Linked DNA regions of Homo sapiens. The protein of the gene in region 2 binds, or shares a complex with, the protein of the main gene of each other region. Each region holds a gene or a part of one and is shown on either strand. Other genes may lie near its edges. The genes, in order: EMD, BANF1 and LMNA. A codon is read from its position in the direction of its gene.

The links.
Region 1: the proteins of BANF1 (region 2) and EMD are in contact, whole or in part, in a crystal structure (PDB 7NDY), measured with the Homo sapiens proteins. Residues at the interface, in NP_001137457.1 of Homo sapiens: Arg37, Phe39, Gln48, Val51, Leu52, Lys53, Asp55, Leu58, Glu61, Trp62, Asp65; in NP_000108.1 of Homo sapiens: Pro22 (codon at 1,294), His23 (codon at 1,291), Gly24 (codon at 1,288), Pro25 (codon at 1,285), Val27 (codon at 1,279), Ser29 (codon at 1,150), Thr30 (codon at 1,147), Arg32 (codon at 1,141), Leu33 (codon at 1,138), Tyr34 (codon at 1,135), Lys36 (codon at 1,129), Lys37 (codon at 1,126), Glu40 (codon at 1,117).
Region 3: the proteins of BANF1 (region 2) and LMNA are in contact, whole or in part, in a crystal structure (PDB 6GHD), measured with the Homo sapiens proteins. Residues at the interface, in NP_001137457.1 of Homo sapiens: Val11, Ala12, Glu13, Pro14, Glu83, Asp86, Ala87, Phe88; in NP_001393912.1 of Homo sapiens: Ser431, Gln432, His433, Ala434, Arg435, Met540, Lys542.

Annotation. Positions count from the first base shown.
Region 1 is NC_000023.11:154,377,030-154,380,841, reverse strand, and holds the start of EMD (emerin), read right to left. Parts: upstream 1,548-3,812; 5' UTR 1,358-1,547; coding exon 1,276-1,357; intron 1,153-1,275; coding exon 1,048-1,152; intron 901-1,047; coding exon 823-900; intron 609-822; coding exon 475-608; intron 90-474; coding exon 40-89; intron 1-39. UniProt on the Homo sapiens protein: Stabilizes and promotes the formation of a nuclear actin cortical network. Stimulates actin polymerization in vitro by binding and stabilizing the pointed end of growing filaments. Inhibits beta-catenin activity by preventing its accumulation in the nucleus.
Region 2 is NC_000011.10:66,000,673-66,004,484, reverse strand, and holds BANF1 (barrier-to-autointegration factor), read right to left. Parts: upstream 1,983-3,812; 5' UTR 1,915-1,982; exon of another isoform or gene 1,415-1,914; intron 1,251-1,414; 5' UTR 1,235-1,250; coding exon 1,112-1,234; intron 860-1,111; coding exon 713-859; 3' UTR 336-712; downstream 1-335. UniProt on the Homo sapiens protein: Non-specific DNA-binding protein that plays key roles in mitotic nuclear reassembly, chromatin organization, DNA damage response, gene expression and intrinsic immunity against foreign DNA.
Region 3 is NC_000001.11:156,112,425-156,116,024, forward strand, and holds the start of LMNA (lamin), read left to right. Parts: upstream 1-2,286; 5' UTR 2,287-2,494; coding exon 2,495-2,850; intron 2,851-3,600.

The DNA.
Region 1 (3,812 bases), on a different chromosome or scaffold from region 2:
CCCAGAACCAGCCCGTCCCTGGGCTCCCCCACTACGCACCTATCCTTGCACTCCTCTTCAGAAGAAGACAAAAGATCGTCATCATGCACCTGCAGAAGAGAGTCAGGGCGAGGGGACTGGCTGGCAGGGCCACCATGGCCCTGTCATGTCCCTCAGTCCAAACTTCCCCAGCCAGTCCCCTCTGACCTTTGGTTAGAGGCCAGGAACCCACACCCTCCTGAATGGCTCTGGGTGTTCAGCCCTTTATCCATGGGGCCTTGCCACTTGTGCTCATGCCCCAGCATCCCCTTTTGCCCCCAGGACTCTCAGGAAGAGTCTGAGCCTAGATCCCAGACCAGGGTGCTCTAGTCACACAGAGTCTCCCCGGAGGCCCAAGAGCCACCATTTGTACCCAGTGCCCCCCTGGATTTATCCAAACACAGCCGCGATCCCCTAGGTTGTACCCAAGTACAGGACGCCTGCCAGCCAGCTCACCTGGTGATGGAAAGCGTCAGCATCTGGGAATGAAGTCACTGACTGGCGGACAGCCCTGGACGGGCCGGCAGACTCGGGCTCCCCATAAGTCCTGGTGGTGAAGTAGCTCTCTTCATAGTAGTCGTCATTGTAGCCTTGGGAAGGGGGGCAGCGGTAGCAGAGGGGGCATCGGTGTGCCCCGCCTGGCCTGATGGCCCTAATCTGAATCCCATTTCGGGACCTGTAACAGTTTCTCCCTCCTAAGGCTGCTGGAGTGGTTGGGACTGAGGTCTCAGGTCCTCCCTGTGAGCGGGGTCCCTGACGAAGTCGGGTGAAGGTGCCAGCGTGCCCACCCAACCCCTGCCTTACCCTTGCTCTGGTAGAGTAAAGCGTCCTCTTTCTTGGGAAGATCATACATATCTGCATCCCCTCTAGTCGAATTCAAGTCTGGATTGAAAGGAGGAGACAGAACTGTTTGCCCCCCCAGACTTCCCTCCCCTTTCTCCAGTGCCGCTCTCGACCGGCCCCCCTGCCACACCCTCGCGACCCCATCCTCCCCGCGTCCCAGGCTGTCCCCACAGGCGAGGCTCTCACCAGAGAAGCTATAAGAGGAGGCGGCGGACGAGCTGGGGGGCGAGAGCCGCCGCCTCTGGGTCTCGTACTCGAAGATCTTCTTCTCGTAAAGCCTACGAGTTGATCCTGGCCGGACACGGGGCGGTCAGGGCCGCGGGCCGGGGAAGGCGCGCGGGGAGGGCAGCGGGGAGGTCGCGAGGCGGAGCACGAGGAGGGGGCCCGGAAGGGGTCCCGCCCGCCGCCGCGTACCTACTACAGGCCCGTGCGGGATGTTGTACCGGCGCAGCAAGGTGGTCAGCTCGGTATCCGAAAGATCTGCGTAGTTGTCCATGGCGGGTGCGGGCTCAGGCGGAGGCCTGGCGGCGGCCCGGGCCTACCAAAACCGGCCGAGCAACGGCTGCCGAGGAGCACGGCGGGGGCGGCACGAGCGCATCGGGAGCGGCCGCGCTCGCGTCACAGCCGAATCGTTGTCGCGTCACAGCCGAATCGTTGTCGCGTCACGGCCGCTGGCTCCGCAGGCTGCGCGCGCTGCGCGGGGCGGGACCTAACCGCGGGAGCAGCCGGCACAGACCGGCCGTGCCCTGAGAGCTGGGAGGCTGGGGCCGCGAGCCCAAACGTCATCAACGCGAGGATTGGCTAGCGGCGGAGAGGGCGGGGCCCGCCCGGGAGTCAGGGCGGTGGGAACCGGTCTCGCGATGGGAGCGGGCGGGGCCGCAAGCCCATATGTCACAAGCACGGGGATTGGCTAGTGATGGAGGGGGCGGGGCCCGCGCGGGCGCGGAGCAAAAGGTCTCGCGGTGGGAGCGAGCGGGGCCGCGAGCCCATACGTCACAAAACGGGGATTGGCTAGCGATGGAGGGGGAGGGGCCCGCGCGGGCGCGGAGCAGAAGGTCTCGCGGTGGGAGCGAGCGGTACTGCGAGCCCGGACGCCACTAATGCATGGATTGGCTAGCGGCGTAGGGGGCGGGGCCCGCGCGGGAGTCAGGGCAATGCAAACCGGTATCGCTGTGGGAGCAGGCGGGGCTGCGGGCCCAAAAGTCACAAACGCACAGATTGGCTAGCGGCAGGGGGCGGGGCCCGCGCGGGAGTCAGGGCGATGCGGCTGGGAGCCCAGACGTCACCCTGTGGCGTGCGGCGGGGTGAGAGGGGCGGGGCCTGCGCGCGAGGGACCCGGGACGTGCGAGCGGGCGAAGTCGGCGCTTGGGGTGGCTCTGGTCCCTAAGTCGCTTGGGCTTCGCCCGATCCCTGCACATCCCTACTCCCCGCCGTCGTCCCCCTTCCCAGGGCCCCAGAGCCTAGGGTTCCCCGGCCGCATCCCGGTCGGCCGCCCCAGCAGCGGCGGGAAGGGCCCGGACCCTAAGAGAGCGCGGGCCCCGGGCCAGGCGCTGCCGAGGGCGCTTTGTGTGCGCATCGCCCGGGAAGCGGCTGCAGGGCAAGGCCCGCGCCTACGCGATCCCCGCAGACCCCCTGCCATGGGCCCGCCTTCCCAGTCTGCGGGGCTCTCGCCCGCGCACATGTGCCTGCTGCTTACCACCGCCTACCCCTCTGCTTCCCTTCCTCCTCCCTCGCTCCACCCGGGAGGAAATGGGGCACTGGGCCAGGAGGCCGCTGGCACTCCAGAAGCAAGCAGTCTTCGAAGGGGCCCGGGCATGCCGACGGGCACGCCAGTGGGCGCGGGCAGAGGGCGCCGTGCGATGCGTGCAGAGACGACGTGTGCCCGCCTAACCCTTCATGCCGTTCATTCACCCGGGGCACTGGGGGGAGCTGAAGTGGGGCGTCCTCTCCTGTCGGAATGGTCCCTGAGCGCAGCGTGGCTAGGCAGGGGGCAGACGTGGGTGGCGAGCTATGGATTCCCATTCCCAGGGCCTTGATCAGATATTGGCTGTCTCATGGAGAAGAGAAAGGAGGTGACATTCATCATTCATATTCTTTTTTTTTTTTTTTTTTTTTTGAGACAGTCTCGCTCTGTCACCCAGGCTGGAGTGCAGTGGTGCAATCTTGGCTCTCTGTAGCCTCCACCTCCCGGGTTCAAGTGATTCTCCTGTCTCAGCCTCCCGAGTAGCTGGGAGTACAGTCACATGCCACCATGCCTGGCTTTGTATTTTTAGTATTTAGTATTTGTATTTTTAGTAGAAACAGGATTTCACCATGTTGGCCAGGCTGGTCTCGAACTCCTGACCTCAAGTGATCAGTCCGGCTCGGCCTCCCAAAGTGCTGGGATTACAGGCATAAGCCACCGCGCCTGGCTGTGACATTCACATTCTAAACAAAGCCAGCTGAGGGTGTATGGAATCAACTAGTGTGCCCCTCACTGGGTAGGCCCCAAACTGGGAGCATGAAGAGGTGACATGCCATCTGTAGTTTCACAGTTGAGGGCTGGTGACAAGGGAAGAAGAGGGGAGGGCTCTGGTCATGTCCAGAATGGCTGGCCTGGCTGGTGAGGGTCACAGACCAGTCATCCATGGAGGTTTGCCCATGGGGTGGGAAGAGGTAGACACCTGGGGGAGTAATGAGGAGATGGGGCCCTGTTTTGACTACACGCAAAGATCCTAACAAAGAGGAATCACTGTTGGCAAGGCCCCACTGTGTCCCCAGCAATATGGAAGGAAGTGTGGGTCCATGAAGACAGTGCCTGGCAGTGTGCAGCAGGAGAGCCTTGGGTAGGGCAGGGGTTTGCACCTCATCTTTCAGAGCTGAGGGGACAGATGGCAGTTTGGACTCTGGGCTGCTCAGAGGCTGCCTTGTGGATTTTTTAGTTTTGACAAAATCAGATTCCCCAGCACCTC
Region 2 (3,812 bases):
TCTCACCCACATCCGGCCCACCCTGTCTGGTACCTCTGACTCCCACTGACTTTTCCACCAGGTGCTGCCTAGCCCAGCTGTTGACTTAACTGACATCTGGAGCACAGTCCATCTGGCTCCCAGGAAAAGATCCACCCACACCCTCTCCCACATCACTCGGGGATTGAGACAAAAGTCACCTGCCTGAGGCCTACATGGCTAGGGTGGCTGCCCTCTGGGAGTGGAAGGGAAGCTGCCAGTTTCGGTCTCTACTGATAAGGAGTGAGGGAAACATGGTCAGTCCCTGAAGGAGAGGCAACTCCCAGCCCACTTGCTTTTCAGTGCACAAAGCCCAGTCATGAAAGCCACTGACTTTATTGATCTAAAAAACTTTACAAGGACAGTGACTGTTCTGCCAAAAAAGGAGCCAAATGGTATCAAACGGATTGAAAGTGAGGGTGGGGGTGAGGGATGGGGCCGGGAATCCATTCAGGAAAGCTGGTAACTGTCACCAGGGAACTGGCAAGGGAAAAAGGACGGGGGAGGCATGCAAGAGCGAGAATCCAAAAAAAAGTTGAAATGGTTAGGGGAGAAAACTCCCAAAAGACCCCGGAGTACGTCGGAGGTGAGTACGACAATAGCAATCTTTTCCTTCGTAGAGGACAGGGGAGGAGTCCCTACTCGGCTGCAAACTCTGGATGAGGGCTGGGGATTGAGAGCTTCCCAGAGAGCATCACAAGAAGGCGTCGCACCACTCTCGAAGGCATCCGAAGCAGTCCCGGGACTGCTTGGCGTTGGCGCCACAAGTGTCTTTCAGCCATTCCCGGAAGAGGTCTTCATCTTTCTTTAGCACCAGAAACTGGCCAAGGACAACATAGGCCTGCAAAACAGGGAAAAGGAAGGAGCGTGCTGCTCAGTGCTCAGTGAGAGATAAGAGCAAGACAGCCATTCCTGTGCCATTCAGAGCACACAAGCCCAGGAAGCAGCGCGGGTTTTGCCCCCCTCTCCTCTCCACCAGGTGCCCAGGCTCTGGCAGCCTCTTCAGATTATACCTTACTGTCCATCCCCCAGCAGATGGAATCACTTCCCTTCCACCCCCCGCTTGCACTAGGTACACGCAGCCACCCCACACCTTGTCAAAACCCCTTTCCTCCAGCTTCTTGCCCAGGACTTCACCAATCCCAGCCAGGCTCCCCACTGGCTTCTCCCCCATGGGCTCTGCCACGAAGTCTCGGTGCTTTTGGGAGGTTGTCATCTTGATCAGGCTTAATCTAGGAATCCCAAAAAAAAGGCAGATTAGGGCTGAAGACCTGGAACTTCTAAGGGCCCACGAGCAATCTCATAGTAAGAGGAAGCCAAGCCAGGGGTTACAGTGGCTTGCTCGATCCCCCTCATCCTGAAAGGAGAAAACAGTTCCAGGGAGACTCTTCCCTACTATTTTTAAGAGGAGTTTCTTCCTGCAGGACCTGGATTTTGATCTTGCCCCAGAGGAAAAACGATCCTGCCTAACAGGTGGCGCAAGCGGGGCAGTGGAAAGATGCCCAGAGTCCGTAGCCAGGGCTGCGCGGAAGCTATCACTCCCTCTGTGACCTTGGCTGAACCAAGACGACACTGCCTGCCTGGAACGGCCACTTGGCGTGGAAAGCTAACCAAAGGGTCTCTCTACCTACAGGGCGAAGCGCACACCTAGCGCTGCGCACACCCGCTCCCCGCCCGCGGGGTTCACGCCGCGCCCCAGCTCCGCCCCCACCGCGCGCCGCTGCGGCCCGCCCCTTCCCGCGGCCCGGCTCCCACGCGCTGCACCCCGCCCCCTCCCCGCAGCGCGGCCAAGCTCTCCCCCAGGGCCCGCCACAGCGCCTGCGACCCCTCTCCTCCCCTTCTCCCCGCAACCCCTCTGGCCTCCAATCAGGGCCCTGCTCCGCGGCTGGCGCTCACCCGCAACTTCAGTTCCCGTAACGGTTCCTCCCGCCACCCGGCCGCTCCTGCGGATACCTCAAGCCACTAGAACTTTCTTCCACTTCCGCTTCCGGGTCGCTTCAAGAGCCGCCTTTAAAAAAGAAACATTCCACGTTGGGCACTTCTAGCCAGTTAGAGCTATAGAGTTGAGGCGCCCCGGACCTCGACGGCGTCCTTAGTAGGCGCTCCTTTCCGGTCCTTCGCGGGAAGCCCTGCCTTCTAAGGTCTCGCTTCTCGCGCAGTTCTGAGGGAGATAGGCCTCCAGGGAGAGGACTTCCTTTCTCTGCTGCCCGGACCCGGAACTCAAGGACTTAGGCTTGACGGACCTGGCGTGGGGAAGAGTTAGAAGACGGACAAGGGAGGGGACGGGAGGCCTCCGAGACAGCGCCGGAAGTACGGTTTTCGGAGGGATCAGACTCAGACTCACGTCGCACTCCTCGCAGTTGGACTGGTGGGAACTGGGAACACTGGAGACCTGATTTCTAACTGACGCTACCGTCGCGGCCGCCGGCAAGTTCCTTTACTGTGTTTTCTTGGTTCAGCCTTGAAGTGAGTCGTGGACGATCCTCTCTCAGCGTCCAGCCTAGACGGCGGTGTTGCTCCGGCAGCGTTCCTGGGAGCCGAGGGCCAGAGACTAAGTGTGGGTGTTTCTCTGAGGGTCTTTTCTCCGGGATAGACAGGGAGGAGGAAGGAGGACAGCAACTAGAGACGACAGTGTTTCTTTCGGAAACCATCAGTCTTAAGGGTACTGGCCTTCGTCTTCTAAGTACGCAAGTCAGAAATATGCAAATGTCGCAGACAAGCCTGCTCACCTCAACCTTTAATTAACTAGTTCCTGGCTTGAACCATCACGGTGGCCACCTAGTTTGTCTCCGGCTGTAGTGTGTTGCCAGACTGAACTTCTCTGTTGTGTGACTATGCTAGACTTGGGGTGTACAAGCGTGTTGAGAAAGATACGGTTTATTTCAAACTCCTTCCAGAGAGGTTGCCAGGATGACTTCTCTGGAGCATGCGTATAGTTTTATATTACACTAGTACTTAAGATTATAGGAGTTACTTTTTTTTTTTTTTTTTTTTTGAGACGGAGTCTTGCTCTGTCGCCCAGGCTGGAGTGCAGTGGCGCGATCTCGGCTCACTGCAAGCTCCGCCTCCCGGGTTCACGCCATTCTCCTGCCTCAGCCTCCCGGGTAGCTGGGACTACAGGCGCTCGTCATCACGCCCGGCTAATTTTTTGTATTTTTGTAGAGAGAGGGTTTCACCGTATTAGCCAGGATGGTCTCGATCTCCTGACATCGTGATCCGCCCACCTCGGCCTCCCAAAGTGCTGGGATTACAGGCGTGAGCCACCGCGCCCGGCCGGAGTTACTTTTACATGACATGCATTGTATTGTCCCATTCTGTTGTAGCAGGACGAGTCGCAGACAGAACTCCTCAGACACCAGATTAAAGAAGGAAGAGGTTTTTTTATTCGGCCGGGAGCGTCGGCAGACTCGTGTCTTAAGAGCCGAGCTCCCCGAAAAAGAAATTCCTAGCCCTTTTAAGGGCTTACAACTCTAAGGGGTCTACGTGAAAAAGTCATAATAGATCAAGTAAGCGTGAGAAACGTGACTGGGGGCTACATACATCAGCTAACAGAACAAAAAGTTTTACAGTGCTTTCTCATACAATGTCTAGAATTTACAGATAACACCAGTAGTTTTGGTCAGGGGTTAATAATATTATTATTATTTTAGCCACCAGGGCCAGGTGGTGGTGCCAAGGTCGTCTAGCTATTTATCTTACTTCTGTTTCTTTCCAACTTTTTGCTTTCTCCCTTTTCTCCTGTCTTATAAACTAGGGAAAAGGGGAGGTTGGAGAGAAACTAAGAAGGCCAACAG
Region 3 (3,600 bases), on a different chromosome or scaffold from region 2:
GTTTAGCTTTCCCAGCCTGGAAAGGAAGCCAGGCCAAGCAGCTGGGTAGGGGAAAAGGGGGCACTGAGTGCCAGGGAGGGGCTGAGGCAGTGGGAACAGCATGAACCCTTCCCTCACGTTTCACTGGCTTACCCCTCCTGCCTCTGCTTCTGGTGTGGAGAAGAACAAGACTTTTTATTGTCTGGGAAGCTGAGGGTGGGTGCCACGCCCTGGGGGAGAGAAGCCATATTCTGGGCCCCCTCATCCGGGTGCATCCCTAGTGCTCACCATGCTGCCCAGGCACCCTCACTGAGATGAGAACTTTCCTTGTTCCCCTCCCCTAATAACCAAAGTTCCTGCCTTAATCCCACTCCAGTCCCTCATCCACCCCGAGGCCAGGCTTCAGAACCCAGAACTGAGGGCCTGTCCAGCCCTGCTTTCCTTGTGTTTGAGGGAAGCCCTGATATCTTGGAGCTGTACAAGGTAGCAACATAATTTGATTTCCCTGGTTGCTCATCGGAGGATAAGCTGTGGGAGGCAGTTGGGCAGGGCATGCAGGCAGATGGGACCCAGGCCTCAATGCTGTCACCTCTTAGAGAGGATAAGGTGGGACGGGCATGGTGGCTCACATCTGTAATCCCAGAACTTTGGGAAGCTGAGGCAGGCAGATTACCTGAGGTCGGGAGTTTGAGACCAGTTTGGCCAACATGGTGAAACCCCATCTCTACTAAAAATAAAAATAAAAAAAAAATTAGCTGGGCTTGGTGGCAGGTGCCTATAATCCCAGCTACTCAGGAGGCTGAGGCAGGAGAATCTCTTGAACCCGGGAGGTGGAGATTGCAATGAGCTGAGATCATGCCACTGCACTCCAGCCTGGGTGAGAGAGCAAGACTTAATCTCAAAAAAACAAACAAACAAACAAAAAAAACAAACAAACAGAGGATGAGGTGGATGGTGGGACCAGGATAGGGGCCAGGATGAGGGGAGGGGAGTGGAAGGCTTATCAAAAGGGTCCTTGGTGAGGCCTGAGGATGGAGGCTCCAGAGCCTGAGGTAGCGAACCCTGGGGACCTGAGTGATCTCGTTTTGTGAGAGAGCCTGGCCCCTCCCCAGAGCCAGCTGCAGAATGGACCTGGCCAGAGAGGAAAGTAGAGATGAGTATGGTGCTGGCCTTTGCAGCCAGCAAGGCTGTGGGGTCTTTGCTGTTCCTGTCCCCCACTACCTTCTTGCCCCCCACTACCTTCTTTCTGGCTGAAACCAGGATAGAGACCCAATATTGGCTGTCCAGCCCCCAGCCCTGCTTCCCCTTTCAGGCCCCTCTGGGAACCACAGAAATCTGGGACCTAGTGTCTTGGCAACGTAATGAATGCATGCACAGCTCTGGTATCTGTTTTAAATTATCCATTAAAATAAGTACAGTTCTGGGGGAAAAAAATAAGTTGACTGGGTGCGGTAAGCAGTAGAAAGGGACTGAAGGGGGAAGGAACCCAGGCAGTGCTTGGGTCCAAAGGAAGGGGACAGGAGATGGAAGGGGCAGTGCCTGGCTCCTATTCTTGGCTTTCTTTAGGGGACTTCTTTAGGGGACTGTGGCTTGTTGCTTGGGTCTAAAAACGAATGCTTGGCTTTGAAGAGAGATAGATTGGGGCAAAAGAAAGAAAAAAAGGGACCCCCCAAACTCCTTGATCCCTGGCCCCAAACTGGGGGCATAAAGGAACTCAGGTTCCAGAACTTTGCTCCCCCCAGGGAACCCAGGCATTCCTTCTCCACCCCACTCCTGGCACACTGAGATGCAGCTCTGAATGGGCTGCCCACGTGTGGAGGGGGGTTGGGGTGACTCACTATTACTACTGGGAGGACAGGGGGAGCCAGTGGTGGAAGAAGGGTGAGTCACACTGATGGGCACCAGCCTCAGCCCTCCCCCCACTTTCCTGGCTCCCAGCCCTGCCTACCTGACCCTCTCCCTTGCTTTGCGCCCACTTCCCTCTCTTTCTCCCCGACCCTTTTGCCCACCCACTCTCCCTCCTTGGCTCTGCCCTCTAGCCCAGAAGGTCTGAGGCAATGGGGGCAAGCTTGGAGCCGACAGTGCTGAGCAGGCAGGAGCCAAGAGAGGGGAAGCTTGAGCCTCACGCAGTTAGGGGTGCGCTGGAGAGGGTGGGGCCCGACTCCGCCACACCCCAACGGTCCTTCCCCCTCCTCACCACTCCCGCCCCCACCCCCAATGGATCTGGGACTGCCCCTTTAAGAGTAGTGGCCCCTCCTCCCTTCAGAGGAGGACCTATTAGAGCCTTTGCCCCGGCGTCGGTGACTCAGTGTTCGCGGGAGCGCCGCACCTACACCAGCCAACCCAGATCCCGAGGTCCGACAGCGCCCGGCCCAGATCCCCACGCCTGCCAGGAGCAAGCCGAGAGCCAGCCGGCCGGCGCACTCCGACTCCGAGCAGTCTCTGTCCTTCGACCCGAGCCCCGCGCCCTTTCCGGGACCCCTGCCCCGCGGGCAGCGCTGCCAACCTGCCGGCCATGGAGACCCCGTCCCAGCGGCGCGCCACCCGCAGCGGGGCGCAGGCCAGCTCCACTCCGCTGTCGCCCACCCGCATCACCCGGCTGCAGGAGAAGGAGGACCTGCAGGAGCTCAATGATCGCTTGGCGGTCTACATCGACCGTGTGCGCTCGCTGGAAACGGAGAACGCAGGGCTGCGCCTTCGCATCACCGAGTCTGAAGAGGTGGTCAGCCGCGAGGTGTCCGGCATCAAGGCCGCCTACGAGGCCGAGCTCGGGGATGCCCGCAAGACCCTTGACTCAGTAGCCAAGGAGCGCGCCCGCCTGCAGCTGGAGCTGAGCAAAGTGCGTGAGGAGTTTAAGGAGCTGAAAGCGCGGTGAGTTCGCCCAGGTGGCTGCGTGCCTGGCGGGGAGTGGAGAGGGCGGCGGGCCGGCGCCCCTGGCCGGCCGCAGGAAGGGAGTGAGAGGGCCTGGAGGCCGATAACTTTGCCATAGTCTCCTCCCTCCCCGGAACTGCCCCCAGCGGGTGACTGGCAGTGTCAAGGGGAATTGTCAAGACAGGACAGAGAGGGAAGTGGTGGTCTCTGGGAGAGGGTCGGGGAGGATATAAGGAATGGTGGGGGTATCAGGGACAAGTTGGGGCTGGGGCCGGCCTGAATTCGGTCAGATTGGGATTTGCCAACTATTTGGAGCCGGGGGGAGGGGCTTGAGCAAAACAGAACTAGCCCTGCCAGCTCGAAGAACTCTGGGCACCCAGGACACATCGGAGTGGCAGAAAGGGTCCTGTTAGAACTTTGTTAGCGGGCTTGGCACTGTGCTAGCTTTGCCCAAGCTGGCTCTGAACACATGATGCCCACTAAGACATAACTCTCAAGTTGGCATCTGTCCAGCGTGTTGGAGCGAGGTCAGGAAGGCAGGGCAATCCCCCTTTTCCCTCCCAAGGGCTTGGCGGTGGCCCCCCCTCAGCATGACCTTGTCCTGGGTTCTAAGGGTTGGGAAGTTCTCCCTCACTCTGCCACTCTGCGTGTCTGGGACCTTCCTTGGGCTCTGACAGGCCCACCAAAAGAGCTCCGGGAGATGAGAGATCGGCTCCCCCGCAGCTCCCACAGCCCTTGGCCTGCTTGGCC